7 linked regions of the Homo sapiens genome follow. The protein of the gene in region 5 purifies or fractionates together with the protein of the main gene of each other region. This does not show direct contact. Each region holds a gene or a part of one and is shown on either strand. Other genes may lie near its edges. The genes, in order: MRPL39, ALDH1L1, DSG2, CREB3L2, PAK5, DMD and AMZ2.

The links.
Region 1: the proteins of PAK5 (region 5) and MRPL39 purify together in Homo sapiens (affinity purification with mass spectrometry; 2 studies listed by BioGRID and IntAct, with this or other methods). This does not show direct contact.
Region 2: the proteins of PAK5 (region 5) and ALDH1L1 purify together in Homo sapiens (co-immunoprecipitation; one large-scale study listed by IntAct). This does not show direct contact.
Region 3: the proteins of PAK5 (region 5) and DSG2 purify together in Homo sapiens (affinity purification with mass spectrometry; one large-scale study listed by BioGRID and IntAct). This does not show direct contact.
Region 4: the proteins of PAK5 (region 5) and CREB3L2 purify together in Homo sapiens (co-immunoprecipitation; one large-scale study listed by IntAct). This does not show direct contact.
Region 6: the proteins of PAK5 (region 5) and DMD purify together in Homo sapiens (affinity purification with mass spectrometry, with the first as the bait; one large-scale study listed by BioGRID). This does not show direct contact.
Region 7: the proteins of PAK5 (region 5) and AMZ2 purify together in Homo sapiens (affinity purification with mass spectrometry; 2 studies listed by BioGRID and IntAct, with this or other methods). This does not show direct contact.

The regions. Positions count from the first base shown.
Region 1 is NC_000021.9:25,587,384-25,591,080, forward strand, and holds part of MRPL39 (large ribosomal subunit protein mL39), read right to left. Parts: intron 1,500-3,697; coding exon 1,452-1,499; intron 407-1,451; coding exon of another isoform or gene 314-406; exon of another isoform or gene 227-313; intron 1-226.
Region 2 is NC_000003.12:126,170,056-126,174,589, forward strand, and holds part of ALDH1L1 (cytosolic 10-formyltetrahydrofolate dehydrogenase), read right to left. Parts: intron 1-4,534. UniProt on the Homo sapiens protein: Cytosolic 10-formyltetrahydrofolate dehydrogenase that catalyzes the NADP(+)-dependent conversion of 10-formyltetrahydrofolate to tetrahydrofolate and carbon dioxide.
Region 3 is NC_000018.10:31,538,920-31,543,453, reverse strand, and holds part of DSG2 (desmoglein-2 preproprotein), read right to left. Parts: coding exon 4,476-4,534; intron 2,262-4,475; coding exon 2,140-2,261; intron 1,309-2,139; exon of another isoform or gene 1,133-1,308; intron 935-1,132; coding exon 602-934; intron 353-601; exon of another isoform or gene 59-352; intron 1-58.
Region 4 is NC_000007.14:137,882,926-137,887,459, reverse strand, and holds part of CREB3L2 (cyclic AMP-responsive element-binding protein 3-like protein 2), read left to right. Parts: intron 1-1,957; coding exon 1,958-2,057; intron 2,058-2,338; coding exon 2,339-2,465; intron 2,466-4,534. UniProt on the Homo sapiens protein: Transcription factor involved in unfolded protein response (UPR).
Region 5 is NC_000020.11:9,576,785-9,581,318, forward strand, and holds part of PAK5 (serine/threonine-protein kinase PAK 5), read right to left. Parts: intron 4,147-4,534; coding exon 3,361-4,146; intron 1-3,360.
Region 6 is NC_000023.11:32,365,050-32,369,583, reverse strand, and holds part of DMD (dystrophin), read left to right. Parts: intron 1-4,384; coding exon 4,385-4,534. UniProt on the Homo sapiens protein: Anchors the extracellular matrix to the cytoskeleton via F-actin. Ligand for dystroglycan.
Region 7 is NC_000017.11:68,250,287-68,254,626, forward strand, and holds part of AMZ2 (archaemetzincin-2), read left to right. Parts: coding exon 1-184; coding exon of another isoform or gene 185-194; intron 195-507; coding exon 508-681; intron 682-763; coding exon 764-892; exon of another isoform or gene 893-1,101; intron 1,102-4,117; coding exon 4,118-4,281; intron 4,282-4,340. UniProt on the Homo sapiens protein: Probable zinc metalloprotease.

The sequences.
Region 1 (3,697 bases), on a different chromosome or scaffold from region 5:
CATGAGAAAAAAAATTATATAACCCTTACTCAAGAACATTATGGTGAAGTCCCTAAACAATAATTCCTATCTACATAGTCATTAATAAAGACTAGGTTTATATATCATTATGAAAAATTGTCAATAAATATTTCTTGGGTAACCCCTTCATGTGCTAATGTTGTGTTCAAAATTTGGGCTTACACAAATATAACAAATCCTGAAAGGCTTAACAGACAGAAAATAAATGTACTGGCAAAGAAAACAATCAAAAAATAGTATGTGGACATATACAATCAAGCACAAACTTATATGAATAATTATTTGTTAGAGATTACTCTGAGACTGTTCCATGGAGGAGGTACGACTCAGGCGAGGTAGTGAAGAATGACTGCGTAGTAAATAGAAGGAGAATGGGAAATGGAGTCTAGAAAGAAAAACTATCATGAAGAAATAAGCAAACTTGAAAATAAGTTTAATGTGTGATGCTTAATGTGCCTGCAAGCTTAACCAGTGTTTGTGGCATTGTGGGAAATTAGGATAAGGAGGAAGTCCTAATGAGGACAGATTACACAGGACAGCTATCAGATAACCTAAGTAAAAGAGGCACACTTAGCCTATGAAATAGGAAACAGGAATAGTTGTGGTCAAGAAATACAATCACCCGGGCCGGGCGCGGTGGCTCACGCCTGTAATCCCAGCACCTTGGGAGGCTGAGGGGGGTGGATCACGAGGTCAGGAGATCGAGACCATCCTGGCTAACACGGTAAAACCCTGTCTCTACTAAAAATACAAAAAAATTAGTTGGACGTAGTGGTGGGCACCCATAGTCCCAGCTACTTGGGAGGCTGAGGCACGAGAATCGCTTGAGCCCGGGAGGTGGAGGTTGCAGTGAGCTGAGATCGCGCCACTGCACTCCAGCCTGGGAGACAGAACAAGACTCTGTCTCAAAAAAAAAAAGAAAAGAAATACTATCATTCCTACTCATTAAGTCTAAATGCTAATGACAAAGAATAAACTACAAAAACACAAACATTCAAATCTGGTTTTTCAGGACATTAGGATATTTGCACATTTACTGTTAATGGCTAAAGGCGGCTTTAAAATACACCTGACAAATCTTAATCCTCTAAATATTCATTAAGTTTACAAAATAAATCCTAAGACCTAACTGATACCATTACAACTATTAAGAACTATTACTATTACATAGTAATATTCTTATTTCTCTTCAAGTTCTACAATATCATTTTCACGATATTAACAAATAAAATCAAAAGAGAACTGCCAAGTTACAACTTTACCCTTACCAACACACTAGTGAACAATCACAACACTGCTTTGACTATTGAGACAACTTACTTTTTTCCTTTCTCTTTGTTTCTTTCATTTTTCCCCCCTTTGGTTGTTATTGGTTAATTTTGATGAATTTCTTTATAGAAGAGTACTCAATAGCTGTCAAAAACACTTACCATTTTCCGAGATCTTTCCAATAGCTTATCCCATATTGTAAAATGTGCCTTGAAAAGAAAAGATTTGCGATGAACTAAATGAAGCAGTAATGTCAAAGTAAAAAGGACAGAGTCTTTATATAGCTTTTAGAACAAAATAAATAAAAAGCTAGGCAGTACTAATTTAGATAAGTGGTTATAAAAGTGGATCATAGTAGCAAAAAAAGGTGCTACATGGGGATAGCTGCTTTTTTGCTTTCTTCAATCGCATGAACCCGGGAGGCAGAGGTTGCAGTGAGCATTTAAGAAAAAAACGCTTAAGGATTGAACGTGCCCTTCTTTCACTTTTGCCCATCTTAATCATTTCCATCATAGAAAGCATTTCTTCTAATAGGAAGCAAAAATCTGCCCTACTTTCCCATAGACTGTGGTTCAATCCTTAAACAGCCAGTTTCAACATTCTAGAAGTCATTCTTCAAATCATAAGCAATCACAAGAAGACAGTCATTAAAAACCAACTGTGACATCTTCACACTGAAATGGCAGAAGCAGAGGATTCATCAAGTTACCCTAAAGAATAAGTAAAACCTAACAAAGACAATAGTAAATTTTTTTTTTTTTTGAAATGGAGTTTCACTCTGTCGCCCAGGCTGGAGTGCAGTGGTGCGATCTCAGCTCACTGCAACCTCCGCCTCCCAGGTTCAAGCAATTCTCCTGCCTCAGCCTCCCAAGACAATAGTAAAATTTAAACTCAATTTCCTTAGTCCATAACAACCTCCTGTAGCAGAGGATTATCAGAATGCATTAAAGAAAACTGTGCAAAGTGTATCATGACCACATCAATTTTATTAGGTCAACTGAAAGTGGTAACAAGACATATGGGCAGGCCAGTGACTACTCCACACTGAATGAGCTCATAAAATCTATAATAAAAGGTAAAATTAATAAATATCAACATACAAACCCTTCCAGGGAAAGAGCTGACTGGTATGTTTAAAGGGAAAACCATGCCTGACTCAGGCGGAATGAACTGCTGGTGCAGAGACCTTAAGCTGTGGCTGGAATATAGTGAGTGAGGAAAGGAGTGGTGTTAGATAAAGTCAGAGAAGCAGGCAGGGACCAGATAATGCAGGGCTTTGTGAGACAGGGTAAAGAGTTGGGATTTGTTCAAGGGAAGCCATTGGAAAGTTTGGGGCAGAGGAAGTACATAACAGATTGTGTATTAAAAAGATCACTTTGGCTACTAAGTGGAAAATGCACTGTAGATGGCAAGAGTGAAAGCAAGGAAGGTGAGTGAAAACAAAGAGGAACTTGGATAAGGGAAGTAGTAGTAGATGAGATGTTATAAGGTGCATAGATTCAGAATATGTTTCAGAGTTAAAAGTTGAAAGGACTTGCGGATGGATGGGCTGGGGCATGGCTATGAGGGGAAAAGAGAATCAAGGATTACCTTAAACAACTAAGGAAACCAGGGGTATCCAATCTTTTGGCTTCCCTGGGCCACACTGGAAGAAGAATTGTCCTGGACCACACATAAAATATACTAACGCTAATGACAGCTAATGAGCTAAAAAAAAAAAAAAATCGCAAGAAAACCTCATAATGTTTTAAGAAAGTTTACAAATTTGTGTCTCATTCAAAGCCGTCCTGGACTGCATGCAGCCCATGGGCTGTGAGTTGGACAAGCTTGAGTTAAAGGATGATCCCATTTTCTGAAATTGGGAAGGCTAGGAAAGGAAGCAGGTATGTGGAGAAAAGTCAAAGTCAAATGTATAGGAGAGGTGTGCTAAATTTTACAAAATGAGAGGGATGAAAGAAGATATAAATAAATAAGAAGATACAGTAAGTTCATAGACTGGAAACCTCAACATATTAAAGATGTCAATTCTCCCCAAACTGCTATACAGGTCTAATGGACTTATCAGAATCTCAGGAAGACTCTGTTGACATTGAAAATATTATCCTAACATTAAATGGAAACTCAAAGAGACTAGAAGAGTTAAAACAATTTTGATTAAAAAACAGTAACAAGGGAGGAATTACTCTACCTGATTTCACAGCCTATTTAGAGCTACAGTAATCAAGACTGGGTGGTACTGGTAGAGAGCTAAACATATGTGATCAATGGAACAGAATAGAGGACCCAAAAATAGGCCTACATAAATATGCTCAGCTAATTTTTAACAAAGATGCAAAAGTAACTCAGTGGAGGAAGAGTGGCCTTTTCAACGAATGGTGTTGGAGCAATCTGACATCTATAGCCCACA
Region 2 (4,534 bases), on a different chromosome or scaffold from region 5:
TCATGTAAAAAAATAAATAAGAAATCTTAAGCTAAAAATCATAAAAGTTAAGTAACTAAGTAAAAATTGCTCATCTTACTCAGTCTCAACCCCACCTCACCAAATACTTTTTGTCGTTTCTACTTCTCCTTTTAAGCCAACTATTAAAACCTTTTTTAATGAAAATTATTTACTATGACACCCTCGCGGGAACTGCTGTACTCACTCTACTATTTGCAGTAGGACTGTGAACCCTCAGAGTGGAATATCTGACAGAGAATCTCAATTACTGTAGCATTTTGCTTAATTATTATCCTCATAGCAGGAATAACAGTTACTAACAAAAAATAACACATGGGTCTTTCCAAACATGCACCTCTGCCTGTCATTAAAAAAAAAAAAAAAAAAAGTTACTTCTGTCTCAACCAGTCGGGCCTAATAAAAAATGCTGCTGAAAAGCCTAGGACTAATGTTTTTACTCTGCCTAATTAACCTTTATCAAAAATTTTTAACCGACAGAATCATGGCCATTTCGCAACTACCCAAAAACATCTACAAATGGTGTTGATCCTACAGTCAATCTAAGACCAAAAAACTCTCCACCCCCGCATCAGCAGGAAGTAGCTAGAAAGAACATGTCCCCTCTTGTCCTTTTATAACCATAGGGTCTGGAATGATAGAGCAGGAGTACTGTCATCTCAGACAAACACCGCCACTTTAAATTCCAGCTCCCTTTCTAGCCTCATGCATTTCAAGGAAATCACTTCTCTTCTAACTACAAGCAGCCAGAAAGAGCAGACAGTAAAACACGGATAAGACAGCTGGGACACAAAGGGAGGTGGGGGGAAAGTATCTTGGGTAACTGCCAAACTTCACCCTCATACGATGGGCCCCAGTAAAACAGTGGGCCTTAATAATAAGGAACAAGCACATTCCCTTTCCTTCAGGGGCACTAAGACAGGAAAGCTAAAAGCAGACTCTTGGCTGGGCGCGGTGGCTCATGCCTGTAATCCCAGCACTTTGGGAGGCCGAGGCGGGCGGATCACGAGGTAAGGAGATCAAGACCATCCTGGCTAACACGGTGAAACCCCGTCTCTACTAAAACTACAAAAAATTAGCCAGGCGTGGTGGCGCATGCCTGTAGTCCCATCTACTCAGGAGGCTGAGGCAGGAAAATCGCTTGAACCTGGGAAGCAGAGGTTGCAGTGAGCCGAGATGGCGCCACTGCACTCCGGCCTAGCGACAGAGCGAGACTCTGTCTCAATAAATAAGTAAAAACAGACTCAGGGACTATACCTGCAGCTGCAGGAAAAATGTATGAAAACAGGCACACAACTCTCCCTCCCAGATAAGCACAACAAAGAGACACAGAAGCAGTCCAAGCCTCTGATAAACTCTCCCATCCTGAATCCTTAAAAACTCAGTCTGTAAGAGAGTGTGCCTCTGACCTAACTTGGCCAGAAGGCTCCTTTCAGGTTGATTTTCTCTAAAATAAATGTCTTAACTGGCAAGCCAGCTTTTGTATTTCTTTCCTCTTTCTTTAATTCTTACAGTTCTCACAGTAAGGATTGGAGAAAAATCCCCTTCTGGTTTTGGCAGGAGGCAAGGAAAGCAGTCATTTTTTTCTCAACATATCTACCCTCATAGAAACTATTATACCAGAGCCTAAGTGAATGGACACCCAGGGCCTAACTAACCTAAGTGATGAGGAAAAACCCAAATCCAGCCCCTCTAGCCTTTCTCATCACCTAAAAGGGGTAGGACTGAGAAACACTTGTGAAGGTCACAGCCCAGGGGTGCAGGCTCACTGAAACACTAAGACCTAATTGTAGGACTGTAAAACACTTCCCCCCACCAAAACACCTTGCTACTACATCCACAGGGCTCCAGTATAGTAACAAGGGGATTACGGATAAGAGAACTGCAAGCCAGAGCCTATTTAAGGAGTTTCTACAAAAACCCAAAGACAACAGGGTAGACAAAAACAAGAAGATGAAGAGAGAAAATTATATCCTCTGATACCCACAGCTATAGCAAATAGTAAACACATTCTAACTCCTAGACAGGTAAATATCAAACCTCACACTAAAAGCCTATCTACCTCAGTACCTTTTACCCAATACATTATATCTGATTTTCTGCAAAACAATTACAAGATATATAAAAGACAAAAACACAGTTTGCAAAGATGAAACAAGCACCTAAACCACAATCAGATATGGAAGCAATGTTGGAATTTTCAGATGGAAAATTTAAAACAATGATAATTAAAATGCTAAGAGCTCTAATGGAAAAATGTGGAGAACATATAAGAACAAATTGGTCATGTAAGCAGAGAGATGGAAATTAAGAAAAAAATCAAAAAAAGTCTAGAAATAAAAACCCTGTGATAAATGCAAAGAATGTCTTTAATAGGTTTATCAATAGACTGGATACAGTTGAGGAAATAATCAATGAGATGGATGAAATATCAACAAACACTTCCCAAACTGAAATGCAAAGGGAAATATAGAATAAAAAAGACAAAACAGAATATCCAAGAATGGTGGGACAATTGCCATAGGTGTAAATCCTTGTAATAGGGATATCAGATGGAATAAAAAGAAAGAAAGGAATAGTAAAAATGTTTGAAGTGATAATGACTGATAATTTTCCAAAATTAAAGACAGATACCAAACCAAGATCCAAGCAGCTCAGAGGAAACCAAATAGGATAAAGATCACCCCCCACCCCCCAAAAAATCTATACTTAGGCATATCATATTCAAACTGCAAAAAATAAAAGACACAGAGATAATCTTCAGTGAAGCCAGGGAGAGGCAGGGCAGGACACCTTACCTATAGAGGGAGAGAGATGAGGATTACATCAAACGTCTCTTCATAAACCATGCAATCAGGAATAGAATAGAAAGAATTATTTAAAGAACTGAAAACATTCCATCAACTTAGAACTAACTAGATTCCATCTGTATGCAGTAAAATTGTCCTTCAAAAGTGGAGGAGAAAGACTTCTCAAACAAAAATTGAAGGAATTTGTCACCAGTAAACTGCCTTACAAGATATGTTAAAAGAAGTAATTCAGAAAAAAAGGAAAATTAAACAAGTCAGAAACTCAACATACAAAAGAGTATTAGAAATAAATGTGAAATAATTTTTTTTCTTATTCTTAATCTGAGAGATAACAATTTGTTCAAAATAATAATTGCAACAATGTATTCAGTGATTGTAGCTTATGGATAAGTGAAATGAATGATAGCAGTAATAATAAGGCATGGGAGGGAGGAATCAAGAATACTCTGCAATAAGGCCCTTACACTACCCATAAAGTTGTATAGTGTTATTCAAAAGCAGACTTAAATTAGATTTAAGTGTATATTGCAAACTGTAGGTCAACCACTAAAAAAGCAACAACAAAAAAGTAAAACTGATATGCTAAGAGAGAAAAGAAAATGGAATCATATAAAATGCTCAGTTAAGATCAGAAAAGGCAGAAAAAAGTGTGGAAGAAAAAAGAAACAAAGGGCAAATAGAAAACAGTAATAAATATGGTAAATATTAATCCAACTATATCAAAAAATCACTTCAAATATCAATGGTGTAAATATACCAATTAAAACATGTGACTATCTAGAGTGAATAAAGAATCGTGACCTAACTATATGTTGTCTACAACAAACCCATTTCAACATAAAAACCAGATAGGTTACAAATAAAGGGATGGAGAAAGATATACCGTGCTACCACTAATCAAAAGAAATATGGAGTAGTTCTATTAACTTCAGATAAAGCAGACTTCAGAGAAAGGAAAATTATTAGGAATAAAGAGAAGCACTACATAATGGTAAAGGAGTCAATTATCCCAGCAGACATAATACTCCTTAATATGTATGTGCCTAACAACAGTGCTAAAATGTGTAAAGCAAAAACTGACAGAATTTTAAGGAGAAATAGATGAATCCACTATTATTACAGTTGGAGACATCAACACCTCTCTGTCAGTCCCCACTAACGTTTTTTTTGGGGGGGCGGAGTTTCACTCTTGTTGCCCAGGCTGGAGTGCAGTGGCACGATCTCGGCTCACTGCAACCTCCGCCTCCCGGGTTCAAGCAATTCCCCTGCCTCAGCCGCCCGAGTAGCTAGGATTACAGGCATGCACCACCACGTCCGGCTAATTTTGTATTTTTAGTAGAGCCTCCATGTTGGTCAGGCTGGTCTCGCACTCCTGACCTCAGGTGATCTGCCCACCTCGGCCTCCCAAAGTGCTGGTATTACAGGCGTAAGCCACCGTGCCTGGCCAGTACCCACTAACTGATAGATCCAGCAGGCTGGAAATCAGTAAGGACATAGTTGAACAGCACCATCAATTAAGTGTATCTAATTGGCATTTAGAGAATACTTCACCCAACAACAACAGAATACACATTCTTCTCAAGTTCACATGGAATATTCATCAAGACAGACCACATTCTGTGCCATAAAACATACAACAACAAATATCAATGACTTCTATGATGGAGATTACTGAGATCACAACAGAATCACTAGAAATCAATAAC
Region 3 (4,534 bases), on a different chromosome or scaffold from region 5:
CAAGTACTCTCATACAGAAGGTAAAATTTAAATGGACTTAATAGATTGTGTTTTTTAGGTTATATATCCTCTGCCTCTCCTACGGAGCTCATCCCTACCAAGCCTGCTCCTGCAGAGGGATGCAACTTTCCGACCCACTGACATCTGTCTTGGTCATATGACTTGCTTTGGTCAATGAAATGTGGTGTAAAAAGGTGGAGGCTTTGAGAGCCATTGCCTGGTTCTGCCTTGTTCTTTTCTTTGGGTCACAAGGACGGCAGCTTCCCAGGTACAATCTGCTCTCTCAGTGTGCATCTTGATATGAAGACATCATGAAGGAAAGCAGAGCTGACTGACTGGCAAAAACATAACTGTAAGTGAGAAATATGCCTGTGTGAGAACTAAGATCATGGTTACTGCAGCATAATTTAGCTAACACCGACTGATTCTGTGGGTCCCATTTCTCTTTCCTTATTGCCTATAAGTATTCCCTGAAAAAAGAAAAAAAAAAAAAACCCAAAGTCTCATTTGGATCCAAGGCAATGATTACCCTAATAATATCACATTCACATACAAATGTTCCCCCCACCCCCCACCACCAATACATAAAACTCATCCTTACATCAGTGAAATAATTTCTTAAGAATTCTTCGTTCAGTGCAACAGCAGCTGCCTGAGCTCCGGCCATGTCTCTGGAAGCCCCTGTGGCCCTTGCGGTCTTCGTGGTTTCAGTGGTCATGATAGCGCCTGTGGCCCCTGTAAACTGGGTAGCTCTACCAGAAAGCAGGCTTCTGTGTTCTTCCCACCTTCCATCCATCTCGGACATCTCATGTTGCCCTTTGACAATGGAAGCAGAGCTACTTCCTTTCATCGTGGCTTCCTTGGCCATACCTCCTACTCCATTTCTTCCTACTAGACTGCCCCCTTGATCCACTGGCAGAAATGATGGCACCACCTGTGAGAGCAAACACAGCTGAGAACTGAGTCAGGAGGATGGAGGGAATCCTTCATCCTTGGTAGAAGGATCTGAGTCAAGTGGGCATAGGAAGGTATAAGCTATTTCCACTGAGGCCAGTTAGAAAAAGTATTTTGAGTTGAATAACTTATGTAAGTCTTATGAAGATCTCCTTTCTTCTCTCTTCTTGTTTTATAGGTGGATAGAACCCAAAGAGAAAACAAAGCCCAAACAGTCTCAGCTCCTTTACTCTATGCGACCAATGGCATTTCAACCTCCCTCTACAGTTTGATACCTTCTTCTATAGTTACAGAATTCTTAACTTTGTTTTGACCTGGATCCATGGCCACCCAAAATAAAGACTATATTTCTAAGCCTCTGATGCCACTAGGTATAGCCACCTGACTAAACTGTGGTCAATGTGAATGAAGCAGAAATGGTGTACACAAGTTCCGGGAAGTGTGCTTAAAGAGGGTTCTTCACTTTTCTCCCATGTGCTGGTTAGAATGTGGGGACGGCAGCTAGGTAGCTAGAACTAGGACATGAGGACAGTGTGGGAATGGAACTCAACCATGGAAGAAAAACAAGGAAGAGGGAACTGGGGACCATGCTGCGGATGAATCATCATGTTGATCTTGGAATGCCCATTTTAGGATTAAGCCACTGTTATTCTGAGTTCTCTGCCACCTGATGCTAAATCCTATCCTATTAGAAATGGTGCTCATAACAGATGGTGGTGAGAGGTCCAGGGTGAAGGTGCAACAGAGAGACAAAGGGATATGGCTATGATGTAGTTGGGAAATGGGGTTTTGCAACATTTTACAAGTGTCATGGGGGTTGTGGGCTTACCTCTGCAAACCCTATGTATTGAGGGAAATGGAAATGAAGCAGTTCCTGGTTATGAAAACTGCCCATTTAATGTTAGGACAAAAGACTTAGATTCCTACACACTCTTGCTCTTCCTGAACCTTGCTCTACATTCTCTACAACATGGGAAGTGTCAAAACAGAGTAAAACTATCTCAATTCTGCCCCAGCAACAAACACAAAATATGCTGTCATTTGAACTCTTTGCTTAACAAAGGCACATGAGTGAAATCCATAGTGATCACTTTACTCACTCAACCAAACATGTAAGAAACACTTCCCTAGGCCCCTTTAAAACCCAAGAAGAAGACAAGTCATATTGACATCTGATCCACTGACCTTGTCTTCAGGTGGTGCTCCTTCATTATTCCAAGGATGCAGCATCTCTATGGTGCCAGGTATGGGGGTAAAGCCTTTGGCGCCCTTTCCGCAATGGCACATCAGCAGTAAAAGTGGTACCACTGTACAGACACAAAATTGAACACAGATAAGGTTAACCTTGATATATTTCTAAATTTATATTGCACAATTTTGGAATTTGCATGTCCCTTCCTGGACTTGTCTTCACTTATTTACAGCTCTATTTTTCTTTTCTTCACCCTGATCCAACCTTACCAAGCTTGTTTTGGGTGAATTACTCCAAAACCCGAAGGCAGGATGAGGGAGTCTTACAGATTCAAGGCCTTGTTCATCAAAAAGAGGCTGTCTGTGGCTGCTGAGTGGAATACCAAGACTAGGTTCAGATAGTATCCAAATCATCAAAACCAGCTTAAAGATTAATTTTTTTAAAACTATGGTCCAATTAAAAAAAAATCACTGTTGCAAAAATATATGTACTATTGAAAACAGTAATTAGAAATAATAAAGTGAAACATATAACAATTTCAGAGCCCTCTTCTTAGATTTTATTTTACCCCTAGGAGGAAGCAAAGACCAAGGCTGACCCCTTGATCAATGTAGTAAAGAATTAAACACACCTGCATGCCCATCTGCCACTCCCATTTGGCAGCTTCCAATGATGAACTGGCTACTGCCTAGATTCGTTTTTATGTCAAACAGTCAACAGCACATTAACTACAGCTACTACGATTAATAAGAAGACTGAAATCAGCCAGTGGCAATTCAACAATTTTAACAAACATTCATCAAGTGTCTATTATGTGCCAAGTACCACATTAGGCTCCAGGGAATCTGAGATGAGAAAGCAGTGCAAGGAATCCCTGAGCAAAAGATACAGTCCCAGCTCCAGTACCTACCTACAAACTTGGTAAGCTGAGACAAGTCATTTACCGTTATGTATCTGTATATGTAGCCATAGCATGGAGATGATGGTATAAAAGTACACTGCAGACTGTTGAGTGCTGTGCTTTCAATTGCACATCTACCAATGGCTCTAATACAGCAGTCCCCAACCTTTTTGACACCAGGGACTGGTTTCATGGAAGACAGTTTTTCCACAGGGAAGTTAGGGGTAGGGGGGTTGGTTTTGGGATGACTCAAGTGCATTACATTTATTGTGTACTTTATTTCTATTATTATTACATTGTAATATATAATGAAATAATTATACAACTCACCATAATGTAGAATCAGTGGGAGCCCTGAACTTATTTTTCTGCAACTAGATGGTCCCATCTGGGGGTGATGGGAGACAGTGACAGGTCATCAGGCATTAGATTCTCATAAGGAGCACGCAACCTGGATCTCTTGGCATGAGTAGTTCACGATAGAGTTTGAGCTCCTATAAGAATCGAATGCCAGCACTGGTCTAACAGGAGGTAGAGCTCAGGTGGTAACACGAGTGATGGGGAGTGGCTGTAAATACAGATGAAGCTTCACTCACTCTTCCACCACTCACCTCCTGCTGTGCGGCCTGGTTCCTAACAGGCCATGGACAGGTGCTGGTCTGTAGCCTGGGGGTTGGGGACCCCTTGTCTAACAGACCTCTCCTCTGTCACTGCACTAGCCTAGGCTGCCTTGGAGGCGGCCCTCTGTCCATATTCAGTGGTCAAGTAGAGTGATATTTCATGTGACCTCAGGATGCAGTCCCTTGTTCTTTTATAAAAGGAAACCCGAGGTCTTTGGAGCGTGGGTAGGGCAGGCAGGACTGGTTGAGAACATCTTACGGTCAGGAAGGACAGGAAGTGCTCAGAGGGTCTGCCTACTTTTGGTGCTGACGAAGAAACAAGGCAAGCGGGGAATATCAGGGAGGCGGAGCTCTGATAAGTTGAATGTACAAAGCAGGATTGATTGGAATAAACTGGGTTTGTAAAAAACCTTGTGCCCATAACCCAAAGTCATGCAACACATCTTTTTTGAGCGCTTACTACATGCAAGGCTCTGTTCCACACACTGGGAATACAGCAGTGAAGAGAACAGACAGCATGCTGCCCTCACAGAGCTCATCAAAATGGGAATACCAGTGAAGTTTATGCCAATAGTTCCTAAGTTACTGAAACCAGAAAAGGATATACATTTATAAAACAAAATTCTGAAGAGTCTTATATTATGCTTTGGTGATTTGCCAATCATCAGTTGTTTCCCTATTCACCCTCAAAGTGCTCTAGTGTGGTTAAAGAATAACTGTGAAGAAATCAATGACTACCATAGTAACACATCTCCAGGAGTGCACTCAGATTCCCAAAAGCACAACAGAGTGGCTTTTAAAGACTTACATAGCAGGAGCAGAAAGGCCAAAATCATGAGCGCAATTGCTGCGGGTCCCAGGCCCACA
Region 4 (4,534 bases), on a different chromosome or scaffold from region 5:
TGGGATTACAGGCGTGAGCCACCGCGCCTGGCCCAGAAAGGAGTTTTGAGTCCAGAAAGCATCTACTCTGTGTGCTGAGGGCTGCTCCAATTCACCCACCACTCCTATCCATTTAAACTGCTGAAAGCAAAATCATTCTTGTGGCCAACCTGTCCTTAATTTGCTCAAATTGGGAGAACTTGTTTCATTGGTACTAGCTGGGGGTGAAGATGTAAGCCCAGGAAAAATCTGCTTGTCCTTCTAGCACCTGAATGCTATTCGGGGGTAGACTGTGGTGAGAAGCAAGTTATCTGCGAAAGCCCACAGCATTCTGTGAACAAATGATTTGATGATGTTTTCCAGTGAACTTATGTGGCTGTCTAACATTGTTACATCACAGCACACATTTTCCGAGAATCCTTGAGACCCAAGAGAAAGCATCTGCTCATAAAATCTTTCCACTTTGCCATATGCACTGGGTTTGGGGGTGGGGGATGAGGATGAGGAGGAGCTTCAACTCTTTACACCACTCACAGGGAACTCTTCCCGGGTGCTCTAACTCAGGAGGGTGTGTTGTCAGATCCTTTTCTATGCCTTGCAGTGTTCAGAATTTGCAAAGAATTTTACCATCTGCTCTGTGTGCTGATGTCACACAGAGCAGAGTATATAAGACTGTTCTTATCCCTCAAACTTTGCCTTTTAAGGAGAGGCACAGTTGTCCAATTTTAGGGATAAAACGTCTCCTTTTTTTTTTTCTGCTCTTGCTCTCTTGTCTTTTTCCTGGAGAAAGGCTAGAATCTGTTTCAAAGGATGGTTTTAAAGACCCTTGACTCTGGGCTTGAGGGTCCAGTTGAGCAGGCATCTTTGTTCTTTCATATGTTGGCTTCGTTTCCTGACTCTGGAGGTGCTGTGAGCGTTTAAGAACCACAGGCTTGAGCTGCAGGTGGCTGTTTGCCTCTCTGCCTTAAACAGAGCCGTTCTTGTTTTTCCTCTCCTTTCTCTCTCTCTCTTCTAACCTGCCTGTGAATGCCTGTTACTCTGTGTTGGCATTTCCAGTCACAGCCCCCACCTCTGGCCTTTCTCTCTCTCTTCTAACCTGCCTGTGAATGCCTGTTACTCTCTGTTGGCATTTCCAGTCACAGCCCCCACCTCTGGCCACTCCTTCTGTTGTTCTCTGCTGGTCATTTTTTATTTTTCCTTCTCTTTGCCTTTGTCCCTTTTTTATGTTTTTGTCAATGTTTCTCATCTCTTGCTTAAATGAGTTCTTCTTTTAATCGACATTTTCTTAGTCTGTTCAGGTTGCTATAACAAAATGTAATAAACGAGGTCACTTACAAACAACAGAAATTGATCTCTTACAGTTCTGGAGGCTGGGAAGTCCAAGATAAAAGTGTTGGGAGATTCCGTGTTGGGCGAGGGCCTGCTTTCTGGTTCACAAAAAGCAGCTTCTTGCTGTGTCCTCTCATAGTGGAAGGGAAGCACTCTAGTCTTTTCAGCTCCTTATAAGGGCACGAATCCCATCAATGAGGGCTCCATTTATGACTTAATCATCTCCCAAAGGTGCTGCATCCTAATACCGTCACATAGAGGACTGGGTTTTAGCATAGGAATTTAGGAGAGACACAACCATTCTGACTTTAGCCACCATCCAATCAGAGTGTTCCTTTTCCTTTGTTCTCAATCGCTGAGAAACAAGCCACAGCCTGTCAGGGGTAATGTGGAGGCAGTTACCTCTAACTCAGGGCAGTGCAAGAACAGGACTTTCAAGTGTGAAGGCTGATTCTGAGCCCCAGTGAGCTCTGTGACAATGGTGCTAGAAGGTACTGGTGTTCGTATCTTCTTCCAGAGGAAACTGTCCCTTGGGGCTCTGTTGAAATGCAGGCACAAAGGCACGGCGGCCTTCTTGGGTCACATGGAGAGATCAAAAAGCATCTCTTCTCTGTCAGACTCCCCTCACGGCTGTTGTTATCATTGGCAGGACTCTCCTTCAGCAACTCCAGAAGCTTCAGACTTTGGTGATGGGCAAGGTTTCTCGAACCTGCAAGTTAGCTGGCACGCAGACTGGCACCTGCCTCATGGTGAGCTTCCCAGCAGGGTAGCACAGTGACCGCCCCTGGCCTGGCCCCTGTCTCCCCTCTCCCTCCACTTGCCAAGGCCAAGTGCTGTGCTGTAGGAGAAACCACATGGAGGAACTCCACTCTGAGGCTGTTCCTCGGTGAGGCACTCTGGTGATGTGACTGGTGGGTGCAGTCCACTGGCCTGAAGAGGAGAGTCTGTGTCCCTGGGTATAAAGCTGTGCTGTCCAGAGGCTGAAGTCCACAGCCCCTCGTGTTCTCTCTCCCCTCTTTCTCTCCCACAGGTTGTGGTGCTGTGCTTTGCCGTTGCATTCGGCAGCTTCTTTCAAGGCTACGGGCCCTATCCTTCTGCCACCAAGATGGCTCTGCCCAGCCAGCATTCCCTGCAGGAGCCCTACACAGCCTCCGTGGGTAAGACAGCATGTGGCAAGTTGGGCAGGGTCTTGTTTTATTTCCCTAGAGCTGGGTTTCTCAGTCTTCCAAAAGGAATCTTCTGTGAAAGTCCAATGTTTAAAAAGTGGTAAAAGTGGAGCTTCTCCCTTTGAAGAGGCAAGTGGGGGTTCCCCTGGGGCCCCTCATCCACTGGACTGCGGCATCACTGGGAATTCTCCAGAGCTTGACAGAGCACAGTTTGCAAACTGCTGTTCTAGACTGTGTTCCCTGATCCATTCTGACATCTAATTTTTGAGTTCTGATAAGGGAGAGGGAAGCAGATGAGGGAAAGAGTCTGTCGCTTTCTGTGACGTTTTAAGAGAACTGCTGTGTTTCTGCCTCCACTGAGTGGAATTGTATGAGTAATGTAATGCAATGTATATAGTAAGGGCTTGTAAAGTGAAATTAAATAAACAGCAAGGTCAGGGCCGGGCGTGGTGGCTCACGCCTGTAACCCCAGCACTTTGGGAGGCCGAGGCGGGCAGATCACGAGGTCAGGAGATTGAGACTATCCTGGCTAACACTGTGAAACCCCATCGCCACTAAAAAATACAAAAAAATTAGCCGGGCGTGGTGGCAGGTACCTGTAGTCCCAGCTACTGGGGAGGCTGAGGCAGGAGAATATTGTGAACCTGGGAGGCGGAGTTTGCAGTGAGCCGAGATCGCACCACTGCACTCCAGCCTAGACGACAGAGCGAGACTCCATCAAAAAAAAAAAAAAAAAGAATCAGCAAGGTGAGGAGTTCAAGACCAGCCTGGCCAATATGCTGAAACCCCGTCTCTACTAAAAATACAAAAATTAGCTGGGCATGGTGGTGCATGCACCTATAGTCCCAGCTACTTGGGAGGCTGAGGCAGGAGAGTGGCGTGAACCTGGGAGGCGGAGGTTGCAGTGAGCCGAGATCGTGCCACTGCACCCCAGCCTGGGCGGCAGAGCAAGACTCCATCTCAAACAAACAAACAAAAAGAATCAGCCTGCCTTCCAAAACCTTATGCCCAAGATCTAGAGAATATGGGGACTCCGGTGTCAGATAAGAAGCGTATGGTGTTCTCACCTAGAAATAAAGGGATGGTGAGTAAGGAATACACACACAAATTCACACCTACACCTATAGGAATGAGCATGGGGTTAGGCAGTACAGTAGTCCCCCCTTATCTGAGGTTTTGTATTCTAAGCTTTCAGTTACCTGTAGCCAATGAACATACCTGCAGTTACCTTAAAATAGCTGAATACACTATAGTAAGAAACACTACCTGCAGCCAATAAAAATACCTGCAGTTATCTGAAAATAGCTGAGTACACCACCATAAGAAATTTTGAGAGAGAGAGGCCACATTCATGTAACTTTTATTAGAAGATATGGTTAGAATTGTTCTATTTTATTATTATTGTTAATTTCTTACTGGGCCTAATTTCTAAATCAAACTTTATCATAAGTACATATGTATAGGAAAAGGCATATGAACCCTACATGCTATATGCCCATATATAAACCCTGTATGGTTTTTCCCATACATATATACCTTATACCATATATATAGGGTTCAGTTCTATCTTCGGTTTCAGCCGTCCACTGGGGGTCTTGAAATGTATTCCCCATGGATAAGGGAGGACTACTGTACTGGATTTGGGATAGGGAAAATTTTGCCATCTTGAAACGTCTGTGGTCTTCACCAGGCAGGTGTGTCTCTGCCAGGTATGACAGAAGTGCTAGCATTCCAATTAAATAATTTCAGTGGCCTGTTGAGAATTTTTCCCCCCAAGGAACTATCTCTCTAAATTTAATTGGAAGCATAGTTTCTATGTCATGGAAAATTGCTACAGAGCCATCTAGCTGTGTGACTGTCCTACAAAACAAAGGAGATTGTCTCTATCCTTTGATTTATGGCTTTGGCTTTGTGTCTCCTCTTCCCTTTCTAAATGAGATGCCCTGTACCTCATCCCCCTGCCAGACCTACTCACTGGGAATGCTGCTTCTTTTAGCTGGGTCTGGACATCTCCAAGTATTCCACTCCCATTCTCCATGAATCATTTTCCCTAGATGGTT
Region 5 (4,534 bases):
TCTTAAAACCCATTTCCTCATCTGTACAAAGGGGTCAAGAATTCTTGCCTTACAGATCTGTGAGGCTCAACAAAACATGGCATGTATCTGGTACACAGCAAATGCTTAATGAACTGGTGGGATTGTTATGCTGGGGGCTTCTCAGTAGGGAACGGATGTGCTGGGCCAATACAAAGACACAAGTAGGTGGCTGCCTGGTCTCTGGAGAGCACAGGAATCAGCAAAGTCAAATACATGGCGGCAATTTCTCCAGCTAGCTTCCTTCCGTGGAAGGCAGATTTGTCTGCAGGCGAGGGTGGAAAGCATTCTCTCTCCACATCTGGCAGTTTTCATAATTTTGTGGTGGGTATGGTGCTATATGGTTTTTGTTTGGCTTTGCTTCCCACCCTCCCAACCCCAGGGTTTCATCTGCTTAGTTCCAGCAAAATACACTTAAATGTAGGGAGAGGAGGCCAACATCAACAAACTCATAACATTCTTGATTCCTGTCCTGCTAGCAGGGAAATTAAGTAGGTAGATAACATTGAAGGATTTTTTTTTTCTGTGGGTTAACATTAATCTTTTTTTTTCTTTAGGACAAAATGTAAAACTGTGTCAAACACACACACGTGTGTACACACACACATGTGTACACACACATGACCCTCCTCATTTCTGCTTCATCTGGAGACCTACACAAGTTTTGTGCTTCCTTTTATTACTGGAGATGAAAACATGACCCAGCCTCCTTTAGGAGTCTCTGCAAGCAAGGCCGACTCATCTGAGTCGTGACCGCTATTTCTTCCCTCAGCTGGAAATCCAAATGTGATTGGTACACTCTAAGAGTACCGTTCTAAAGACACAGGCACCTCCGTCTTTTCAGAGAAATGTTGTATTTTTAATCAAGTGAACGTTTTAATTACTAACCTGCCTCCCACCTCTTATCCTCCCACAAAACAAAAACCTGCTCATGAATCTCTCACGAGTTTCCTGTGAAACATGGAGCAGCAGCTTGCTTCTTTGTATTTCTGATCGTAAGGGCTGAACACCCTTGGTAGAAGTTCCCATGAGTGATTATGCTGTTTTTGTTGTTGTTGTTGGTGGTGGTGAGCCACAATAGTTTGTGCATTGTTTCTGGGCTGGCAGAGCCAGATTTCAGGGCAGGTCTGCTTTGTCTTATATTTGGAAGTCTGCAGAATAGAGGGAGCCTGTAGGGAATTAAAGTGAATCACCCCTCCCACCCTCGTTCTTCTGTCACTTAGACGAAAGTTCTGGTGGCCACTGGGACTTCTCATGGATTTTCTTGGCAAATGCAGTTGAGTCCCCGAGATAACATACGCCCAAATAATAGGAAAATATTGAGCAGGGAGAAACACCAGACTTGAGTTCTTGTCCTTGTTTTGCAACCAACTAATTATGAAACTGTAAGTGTGTCATGTGGCTCTCTGGGCCTCAGTTTCCCCTTCTAGGAAATGAGTGTGCAGGGATTGCTGGTGGTGACATTAAATCCCAAAAGCCCATGCTATGTGAAAATGTGGACTCAGGGATACCAGTTCATCCTTTTTAAAAAAATAAAAATAAAAAAGAGAGAAGACTGAAACTCCAGAATTAAGAGTTCTAAAACTCTTGACCTCTAAAACTATTTGGACTATAGACATGTGTAGCCCACCCAATATTCATTTCCAACATCCAGGAAGAGCCAAATAAGGCTCCAGGACCAAAATGCAGCATCATCTGGGCAATGTTTTCTCTGTAACTATGACCCCAAACAACTCCCTAACACAAATATGCAAATAAGCCACACGCACACAAAATCTTAGATAAAAAAATAACCACTGATATTCAAAGCCTCAGGATGTAACTCAATTCAGCTATAGAACATGTTAACTTATTTATTTCATATCACTCACAGAAATGCACAAGTGATATGCACAAGAAATGGAATAAACTATCTCATGTATCATGAGACATGCGTATGAGTTCAAGTAGATTTTGCTTGTGGTTAATTAGACCTCTTTCCAACAGTCACCCTGGCAAGCACACAGGAAGAGAAAGCAGTCATGATATCCTGAGTGTGGGTGTTCAAGTACATTAATACCACGAGATAAAAAAAAAACACTGTCACTATGTGAATTTTAACTGGAGGAACATATCTCAGGCCTCTATTTATCAAGATTTGTTTTTAATTTTATATCCTGGGAACTAAGGTGACAGCTTTTTTGTTTCTTCTAAAGAATGGCTGAAGTAACTCCAACAATACACTTAAATGGCTTCTCTTCAACATCTTGGATGAGGTTAATGAGAAATAAGAAGCAAAGGAAAAATATCGACTATCTATAATCAATAAATCAGGTGAATGCAGGCAGGCTTGGGTTCCAGAGTTTTCTGTGCTGCTCACCAAACTGTCAAGAGTTTGGTATAAATAAAGTACATGACTGCCCTGTGAGAAGTCATGTCCCTCTCACCTGCTTCAAGACCTCTATGTAATCCACATTCCACACCCTACGGTCCATGTTCTTTTGCTGGACAGGTAAGGTAGCAAAAACATTTCTAAATGACAGGGAAAAATAAATCACTTGCACATTCTCAAAGGTATTTTCCAAGACTTTAGACCTTCGGACCCATAGACCTTTGCCTGTGCTTTTAGTTTCAGTAACTTCTCCGGCAGTGATTCCCAAACTTTAGGATATCATAGACCAGTCAAATTTCAAAGCAAACTTGGAGCTGCTAACATTTAAACAAAATTTAAAAGAGGAATTACTACAAAACAAAGTGAAAAGGGGACAAAAATGGTCCAGCGGTCCAGCAACCATCTGTCACCCCCAAATTTCATATAAAAACCAATATTTCAAATCAAATATAGTAGAAAGTACATACTCTTAATATGAAGGGCCATCCCCTGAGTTGAACAAAATTGGCTTTATTTAAAAATTACCATGTTATACTGAGTTTCTTTCCTTTTTAGCAGGTCTATGCAAACTTTGCCAGGATGTAGGAACCACTGGATGGCTCGATCTAATGCTCTATGATTGTATATGACTGATCCACTCCTTAACAGGGAACTTAGTCAAATACAGTCACATCATATTTATCACTCATATATCAGAATTCTATCTTTCAAATCAATAAGTTTATTCGCCTTTTAATGAGAAACCACGTAGGAGGGCCCAAAAGATAGATTTTTATTTTAATGAATATATATGCCTTATCCTAAACCTCTGCCCTGGGGCCTCACAAGTGGAGATAGGGTGGGTTTTGATATTGATTTTCCCTTAAAAGGCAAACAAGTACTTTACAATCCAATCGTATAAAAAGGTCGTGCCAGCACCACCCCTGTGGAGGTTTTTGCACACGTGAGGGAAAGGAGGTAGCAAACGTTACCTTTGGAATGCACATTGTGGGCTCGGACAAGCGAGGGTAGGTGTAGGAGTTGTAGGAGTGTCCTTGGGGATGGGTTTTAAATGCACTTGCTCCAAATGGCATCATCGGTTCCTGGAGTCCCGAGCCTGACCTGGACCTCTGCCGCATGGTGGGCTGAGGGCTTGTCTGATTCAGGTACGAAGACTTTGGCCTCCTGTCATAGTCATCCAGGCTGGGTCCCCATTCACTTTCACTGTACGCCAGGCTCTCCTTGGAGCACCCGCTGGTCCCTGCAGTTCTAGAAGGTGTGAATTGGAATGAATAATCCAGAGGGGAGCTACTCGAGGCTCTCTGATACTCCCACTTGAGGTCACTGTATTCACTTGGTTTGCTCAGTGAGTCCAAATGTGAGTGATAATCGGCAGAAAATCTGGCAAAATCGGATTTCAAAGGCTTCACCTCAGAATAGTAGGCCTCCCCGTGCTTCATTTTCATTACGTGCCCATTTTGCTTGGCTGCGTGGCTGCCTCTATAATACGGATCCAGATCATCTCCATAGAGACTCTTCTCCCTGTACTTTTCGGTCGTGTAGTCAGCAGTAGTATCGGATTCGCTGGAATACTGGGAGAAGGTGATGAAGCCATTTTCTTCCGCGTGGCCTGGACCGTGGCTGGAGGCTCCCTGATCTGGGGTGGGTGGGCTTTCTTTCCTTAGGGAGTTGGAGCGAGTCACCGAGATGTTGTCAAAATCCTCTAGCAGGCCGTTGATGGAGGTTTCCTTGCAGGGTTTGTTTCCTCTAACGATTGTCTGGGAATAATAGAGGGAATATTGTTTAAAGAAAATATTTCATGGATTTAAATTGATGGTGGCATCCCACCCCCACTCCATCCAAATTAAACTACAGAAGAAAAAAGACCCCGGGAACACTTAACACAAAATGATAAAGAAAATGTGTTGATTGACTTCAGTGGTGAAATAAATCAAATAGTAAACAATCTCAAATTGCATTTTTCTTCTTACCTATCTCAACAGAGACATCAAATAACCATCAAAAAGCCATGTAGGAGACTACATAGAATATAACTGTTTTATTTACCAGTTTACAGGCAAATCCCTTCCCCCTACTTCTTCTACCTAAATAATAAGCCCTAACCACCTAATGATGAGCTGATAATTATAATTTAACACTCTATAA
Region 6 (4,534 bases), on a different chromosome or scaffold from region 5:
TAAAGGTGTTCCTATAGGACCAGATGATTTTTCCAATAATTTTTACCGTTCTACCATTAAATAAAAATAATGAAAAATGCTGATGGTATAATCAGCAGAGACCAATGGAGAAGGTTTTTCCATCTTGCTACTGTATCAGTGAAGTGAGCCGATAGCTGAACCCTGAACCGAACATGCCTTTTTAAATTTCTACAAGCAATTATACTTGTAGATATGGGGAATGAATCAGAATGTATTCTTCATCCTTCCCATCAACATGGGGCATGACTTCACTGGAAGAAATTAACTCATTATACTCATTCTTTTATAATAAGGAAATTAGAGTAGCATTTACAAATTATGGCTAAGAAGTAGACAGCAAATTTGTTTGAAATCATGGAAGTTAGTGCTTAGTATTTGGACTATTTATACTGGAGCTATCAAATGTTACAAAGTAACATATGGAAAATAATATGTTAGACATTGTGAGAATTTATAGTTTAATTGGATTTTACTTATGTCAGATATTTTCCCCTCTATCATAAAAACCCTTAGTGCCAAGTATATAGTTTGCGTTCACCTTCTCTTGAATCTCCTGAAGGTGGACTTACAATCATGTCATAGGTCAAGTTAAAACTGAGTGTACACAATCTTGCTTTTTCTTCAGCCCTAAAATCGATCCTAGCAGCAATCACATTACTACATGACTGAAAAACCTAAAGTGTCTGAGTTATAATTTAGTGAATTTAGTCATTGAATTTGAACTTGCTCCTTCAGAAGAGTAGATCTTCTAGAACCCTCTCCACTTCTCACCTCACAAGGCAGAAGAAGGCATGTATGCTGAGAATCGGATGCTTTTGAAAAGGAGGAAATGCCATATCTTTTCAGCTGTTTCTTTCCATCTCGCCAACCCTATAAATAAGGAGCTCCCTTTGAGAGGAATGAGTACAGGTATAAAGACAATGGCCAAGGCAATAGCTCTAGGTTGGTTCTCCATACATCTGAAGATGCAGACATTCTTGTGTTGTGGGAAACTATTAGAGCCAGAGAAAATGGTTCGTCAACAACCTCATCAAATGTATTCTTTTAGTTTACAGTAAGAATTCCCTGTTCCTCTATGGCAGCCTTGTATTCTAACTTTCATACCTTCTCGTTGCTTCGTACTTTGTCTTTAGTCAATCCAAACCATCCCATGCACACTCCGCCTTCAAGTGTCACCTTTCCCTTGTAGTCATTCATGCTTATTCCAGCCATGGCTCATCTGTTTCCAAAAAAAAATGTGATTTTTTTCTAGTATGATATCAAATTGTTTTATTGCATTTAAGCTTTCCTCTGCAGCTACACTGTAGGCATGATTAGAGTGAGGTTTGCAAAGATTACCTCATTCCTCATCTCTGGCAGTGAATAGCACAGTACAGACTGGATATTAGGCACCTGATATACATTGGTCAATTAGTATTTCAGATCTCCAGAAAGCAAGCTCAGCATAGTATTTAAAGGCTAAGTCTTATTTAAGTCTTATTTCTTAAGTCATATCTTTGATTAAAAACACATTTGAGGGAAAAATTTAAGGCCTACTAAATTAACACAATATTTTTTCCTAACCCAAAACAGCATGTATACAAATGATTGAATACTGGTTCCTTATTGTTGAATAGCATACATAAAAGTTTAACTCTAGGTCTCTTTTTTTACAGAGTGTAAATTGTCCTGTGAATCACTTTTGACCATTAGCAGTTATAAACCACCATCATATCACTGCTTTTTTCAAATACAAGTTGATAATGGTGATAAATTGAACATCTTTTAGTTTTAATTTATAATTTTGTGGAACTTAAGAAGGCACTAGAAATTAGTCCACATTTCCTATTTTGTTCCCATCAACTGAACATCACTGGACATTGTTTAAATTAGCTGGAGGAATTTGGCCAGATGTTGACACATAATGGTTTCTGTGACCCAGGAACTACCTGCAACATTATCCCCTAAGTTCAAAACTTTTGTGATCTCTTCTGAGTTTTGGAAAATTCCATTGCCTTTAATTGCATTGCTTGTCATGTAAGAAACAAAATCTATGTACACAATAACTTTTTACATTGATGCTAAAATATAGTGTCATCTTTATGAAGACTTATTAAGAGATAATTAGTAATCCAAATATAAATTAAGCTTCAACTTTGTGAAGGGTTACCTTTGTGAATAAATCAACTACAGCGAGATGCCAGTAGACTGGAATATAGAAAGTAGATAATTCTCATTTGCGTATATGTCCATCTCTTTGACAAACTCATACTTGGATATAAGTTTTTGAAGGATGGGGACTTCTCTACCGTTTTATCCCACAGAGCCTAGTAACAATGGCTAACATCTATGGTTGTAGAGGTTGTATACTACAAAAGGTTGAAGTCAAAGTATTAAAAGGAATAAAATCTAGTCTATGTCTACTCTGAAGTTAAGCTCTAAAGGGTCTGTATCTACCCAAATGAGAGACTTCTAATAATCTCCCAGAATATATTGAGGAGAATTACATATGATTCTGCTACAGTAGTAACTGGCATATAATAGGAGCTCAGGCAACACTTACGATTGATAAATGAAGAAATTGCTTTTATGAATTGCTAAGCTCACCTGTGTGCAACAAATAGCACCTACATATGAAGAACCCCATGCATGATAGCTGTCGAGTTCATCTGGCATTAAGTACCTTAATTTCAGGCATGTTTTTATTGAAAAAATGTGACATAAAACCATATCTTAGAATTGAAGAAACAGTGTTTTTGTCTTGCATAAAAATTTTTATACATTGTTTCCTCATTTATTTCTCCTGTTTATCCGATGCCAAAGGCAAAACCAAAACAGAAAGTATGAGAAGTGATTTCGAGTGGACCAGGACCTTATGGCGTGGCAGAAAGACAGCCACAGGACTACTTAGGTATATTATAAAGATAGAAAAGACATGTTGAGAGTGACTCTATGAGGCCAGCCTATACCTAATTTCTTACTCTTGTACTGTAATTTTTTTCTTAAGAAATTAGATGTAGGCTGGCATTACAGAGCTGCTCCTTGTGTGTTTATTAATTGATTATTTGTATCTGGACTTTCTCCACTTTCCTGTTATTGCTGTTTCTCAATGATTTTGTTTTGCTTTGGCTTTCTGTGATTAAGACATCAGCTCCACTCGCAAATAGCTTTTCAACTCGAGTGCCAATCACAGTCTCTGTATCTGTTAACCTTATTGAGAAAGGAGAAAAAGGGTCTGTTGGGCTCTGGCTCAGCTCTCTGTGAATGTCCCACAGCTGGCTAACTAGACAGGCAGGGAAAGAACCAGGCACAGACTCAGTGGAATGCCGAGTGGCCACATTGTCTGTCAGCCGTGCCATGTACCAGGAAAGGGGCTTTATGCAGGGCAGGTAGTAAACCTTTGTACTAAGATCACTTTTTCCATCACTACTCTCTATCTTTTTTCATGTTAAATGTGATTGTTTTCATGTTTTATAAATCACCTCTTAGGAAATAGTGGTATTCTCTTAGGAGATTTTAGTCTAGGGTATGTGGATAGAAATAAGGTCTGTGAACTTGGATTGGGGGAAAACTTTATCTTTATTTGTATTCAATTAAAACCAAAAGTAAGCAGTTTTTTCAGTTAAAATGTGAGCAACAAACTCCAGCAATAGAGATACCCATGACTTTGTCACTAATAGAAATGACAGATACTTTTATAACGTGTTCCAGACATTGTACATACTTAAAAATACCAGTTATGCTCGTCATCACTACATTGAAATTATCCTAAAGACCTGATGCTAGATCTTGTTAATTAACATATTAGGAAATAAAACATGTATTACTACATCACAAATATTTAAAAAATGTGTTGCACATTGTATTTCAGTATAATTGTTTTCATTTAAAATCCTATGTATTTTGTTTTATGCATTTAAAAGCATTATTATGAGAATGGGTTTTTAAGCTTCAACAGATGCCAAAAAGATCCATGGCACTAAAAGGCTAAAAAAATCCCTGCTGCAGAAATACAGTAGCACCATACTGTAGAATTTTCTAAGGGCAGTTTCTTATTTGTGGATGGATTTTCAAATATCTGCCTTTAGCCACTACATGTATAAATTAAATAAATATAAATATATTTAGTTGAACAATATGTATGTTTATTAAATATTTATAATGAAAAATAAGACATGAATTATGCTTATGTACATATATATGTTCATAGTTACCCAACAATGAAGCTTCAGTATATATGGTATGGTTTTCATGATTCATTAATACATAGTTATAGGTTTAAAACCTTGCAGAATCATAGTAACCATACAGAAAGCCGTTTCATAAGCATTAAATCTTAAGACTACAAGACATTACTTGAAGGTCAATGCTCTCCTTTTCACAGGCTACTCAAAAAGAGATTGAGAAACAGAAGGTGCACCTGAAGAGTATCACAGAGGTAGGAGAGGCCTTGAAAACAGTTTTGGGCAAGAAGGAGACGTTGGTGGAAGATAAACTCAGTCTTCTGAATAGTAACTGGATAGCTGTCACCTCC
Region 7 (4,340 bases), on a different chromosome or scaffold from region 5:
CAACGTTTAATGAATGAAGCCTTCCAGCCAGCCAGTGATCTCTTTGGACCCATTACCTTGCATTCTCCATCAGATTGGATCACCTCCCACCCTGAGGCTCCCCAAGACTTTGAACAGTTCTTCAGTGATCCTTACAGAAAGACACCCTCTCCAAACAAACGCAGCATTTATATACAGTCCATTGGTAAATACTGGTAATGTGCTGGTTTTGGTTCAGTTTTGCAGTGGCGCTCTTGTCAGGAATAGTCCAGGCTATGGGTCTGATTCAGATGGGCCGTTTTAGGATCGTTTTTGATATTCATTGCGGCGGTACAAGTTTTGTAGCCAAACTGACTTAAAAGATAACATTTTGTTTCTTTTTGTTTCATAGCAACACCAATGAATGATAAAGGTTATTGAAAATTTAGAGTTGGTTTTGTTTCTAATTTGAATCTTCTTACTCATAGACTGGGTAAACACTGAATAATCATCTTAAAGTCTGTTTTTAAATGTTCTTCCATATTGTAGGCTCTCTAGGAAACACCAGAATTATCAGTGAAGAATATATTAAATGGCTCACGGGCTACTGTAAAGCATATTTCTATGGCTTGAGAGTAAAACTCCTAGAACCAGTTCCTGTTTCTGTAACAAGATGTTCCTTTAGAGTCAATGAGAACACACACAACCTACAAATTCATGCAGGTGAATTACACGACTTTGCAATTCGAACTGAGTATATGTATATAATATACACTCATACATTTATGTATTTCTTTTTAAATAGGGGACATCCTGAAGTTCTTGAAAAAGAAGAAACCTGAAGATGCCTTCTGTGTTGTGGGAATAACAATGATTGATCTTTACCCAAGAGACTCGTGGAATTTTGTCTTTGGACAGGCCTCTTTGACAGATGGTATTCCGTTTTTGGCATTGTTGTTAGAAGCTTCTTCAGCTTGAGAATATTTGAAGATGTTAGAAGAGGGAAAAAATTCCAACCAAGAATCATATTGATATTTAAAATATTTTCAGTTGAGACATTATGCCATAATGGGAAGTGTGCTGTTGGTAGATTGTGATAATCTAGGTTCTGGTTGGCCACTCACTACCTACAGGACCTTAAAGGTAACAATACCCACATCATGGAGTCATTTGGAGATAATTTACATAAAAGTGCCTGTACATAAAAAGTGTGGATAAGCCTGGACAACATAGACCACATGTCTACAAAAAAATAAAAATTTAAAAAACTAAATTAGCTGGGCATGGTGGCACATACCTGTAGTCCTAGCTACGCAGGAGGCTGAGGTGAGAGGATTGCTTGAGCCCAGGAGGTTGAGGCTGCAGTGAGCCATGATCGAGCCACTGCACTCCAGCCTGGGCAATAAAGTGAGACCGTGTCTCAAAAAAAAAATGTATATATAGGCCTGGCATATATATAGGCATACAGCATAACAGCTAGTAAATGTCAGTAATTCAGTAGCAAGGTGAATTAAACCAATTACAGTTTGAGCTATCAATGGATGTGAAAATCTTGCTAATTATTTTTCAATTCTTTTCATAGTCATCTTGCACAGTTAGAATAGCCATAGACTAAGTGTATGCTTCTTTCTCATCATACGACATTTGTTTTTTAATTTAAAGAGTCAAAACGTCCATCTTTGATTTGAGATATGTAATAAACCTTGACTCATTAGGAACTCTGTATGGTAATATTAGGGATGGGAAAGGTTCTGCAAACCGGTCATATTTTTAACCTTTTTTTTTTTTTGTCATCTCTCTACTTCTCCCCTCCCCTTAATTATTGTTCTTATTTCTCTAACTTCATCCCTAAGAATCCAACACAGACTTGAAAGGGAAAAGGCCCCCTAAGGGGAGTGGTTCATTAGTGTTCTGGGGATGGGGAGTAAGTACAGGGACTATCCTGAGAGTTTATGGTCTGTCTGGATGTTACATTAGCCTTAGGATTTGTGTGGGGTGGTAAGCTTTTTGGGACAAATGTTTCTACTAGAGGTGGGGGCTGTAGGGTTATAGAGCCTCTTCCCACTTACTCCTTTATTCTTTATTCTCCATTTATGTGAGGTTTCTTGTGGCCCCCATGGCCCTACCAGCATGCACTCTTGGAGACGTGGGTCACTACTTTCTTACTGATTTTGGTGGTGTGAGGTAGCTTTTTATCATAAGTTTTCTCTTTTATTATTAACCTGATAGAGATGGAAACATTGAAAAATAATTCTATCTACCTTTTATTTTTCTTTTGAGACAGAGTCTCCCTCTGTCACCCAGGCTGGAGTGCAGTGGTGTGATCATGGCTCACTGCAACCTCAACCTCCTGGGCTAAAGGGATCATCCTGCCTCAGCCTCCCGAGTAGCTGGGACCACAGGACCACCACACCCGGCTATTTTATTTTATTTTATTTTTGGCCAGATGGGATTTTTTTTGGCCAGATGGGATCTCCCTGTGTTGGTCAAGCTCATCTTGAAGTCCTGGGCTCAAGCGAGCCTCCCATCTCAGCCTCCCAAAGTGCTTTGATTACAGGTGTGAGTCACCACACCCAGCTAAAAAAATAATTTTAAAACCATATGTTCGTTTATCTAGATATTGCTAGCTAACTTATCTTATGTGTTTGAGGAGGTCAGGAAACATTTCCCCAAACTGTATTTACTTTAATTCTTTTTTTGGTAAGTTTCTTAAATATTACATGACATAAAAGATTTACATAGGAAAGTAGCAGGATTAGACAGTGACAATATCTTAACACAGTGGTCTTGTTTTCTCCGAGTTTACAAAGATTGATATTTTTAAAGTGAGACGCATTGACTACGAAAAAAATAGTCTATTTGTAGGATTATTGGAAGAAGGAAATGTCCTTGCTGAAAGTAGTGAAATATGCTCACACTTGATTGGCCAGAGGGGGTTACTTGTGATAAAGGAATAGATTTAGTGTGCTCTTAATTTCCAGAATGCTATCTTTGCTTAATTTTCAAATATCAGTCTACATTTTCTGGGTAAAGGGAGGTGAGGAAGTTTGTTTTTGAATCAAATTAGATTGGACAAATCTACTATGGGTTTATTACTTTAAAAACTGAACGAGAGACATAAATAAAAGTGATCATGTAAACAAGTCGAATTATGAAGCAGTACCCTGTAGGGTGAGTTATGTAGCAAACCGTGTTCTCTGTGCTTGCAGAGATGGTTGATATAACTCTAAATGTAACACAGGAAGTCAGTTACAAGGGTATTTATTCTGGTCACCAGACACTAGTGACAGAATAGAGTTGAGCTGTTCTTTGAAAAGGGGGTAGGGTTGGGGAAGGGGACGAGGTTATTCTGTCAAAAGCCGTGGTTTAAAGCATGGGCTTCAAGACATCAGGGGCAGTTGTCCTCAGTCAGTGCTGCGTGAGGGAAGGCCAGCAACCCCTCCAGACACACGTGTAACAGATCTGTTTAGTGTGTCCTTAAATAGTGAAATCATGACTTCCTATTGTTCATGTGATTTTTTTTTTTTTGAGACTGAGTATCACTCTATCGTCAGGCTGGAGTGCAATGGTGCGATCTTGGCTCACTGCAACTCCGCCTCATGGGTTCAAGCCATTCTCCCGCCTCAGCCTCCCTAGTAGCTGGGATTACAGGCACCTACCATCATGCCTGGCTAATTTTTTTTAGAGACAGGGTTTCACCATGTTAGCCAGGCTGGTCTTGAGCTTCTGACATCAGGTGATCCACCTGCCTCGGCCTCCCAAAGTCCTAGGATTACAATCGTGAGCCACCACGCCCAACCCATGTGGTTATTTTTTATGATTCCTTTTTGAGTACTTGATTTGGAGTACTTGCTACTTTCAGAAAAAGACTTCTTTTGTGGGAAAAGACTCTCTGAAACTTCAGTTTCTCAAGCATTTGACCTCAAGTCCATTAAGTTTTACAAGGCAAGGCAAAGTGGATAGCAGCAAAAGATTTTGATAGGGAAATCTGGGGCAAAAGTCTTCCTTTTTGGTGGCAAACCATAAGTGTATCAGATGGTGTGGACACAGTGACACAGAGATGCACTCACTGGCCAGATGGGCCAGCAGTCTCTTCTTTCTTTGGTCTTTCTTCAGGGACCTTACTCTCATTCTGTCACTGTTTGTCCTTTTTTTGTAGGTGTGGGGATATTCAGCTTTGCCAGGTATGGCAGTGATTTTTATAGCATGCACTATAAAGGCAAAGTGAAGAAGCTCAAGAAAACATCTTCAAGTGACTATTCAATTTTCGACAACTATTATATTCCAGAAATAACTAGTGTTTTACTACTTCGATCCTGTAAGGTAAGTTATTACAAAAATCTGACAGGACAGTTCTTTAAAAGAGATCTTAGTTCCGTAAA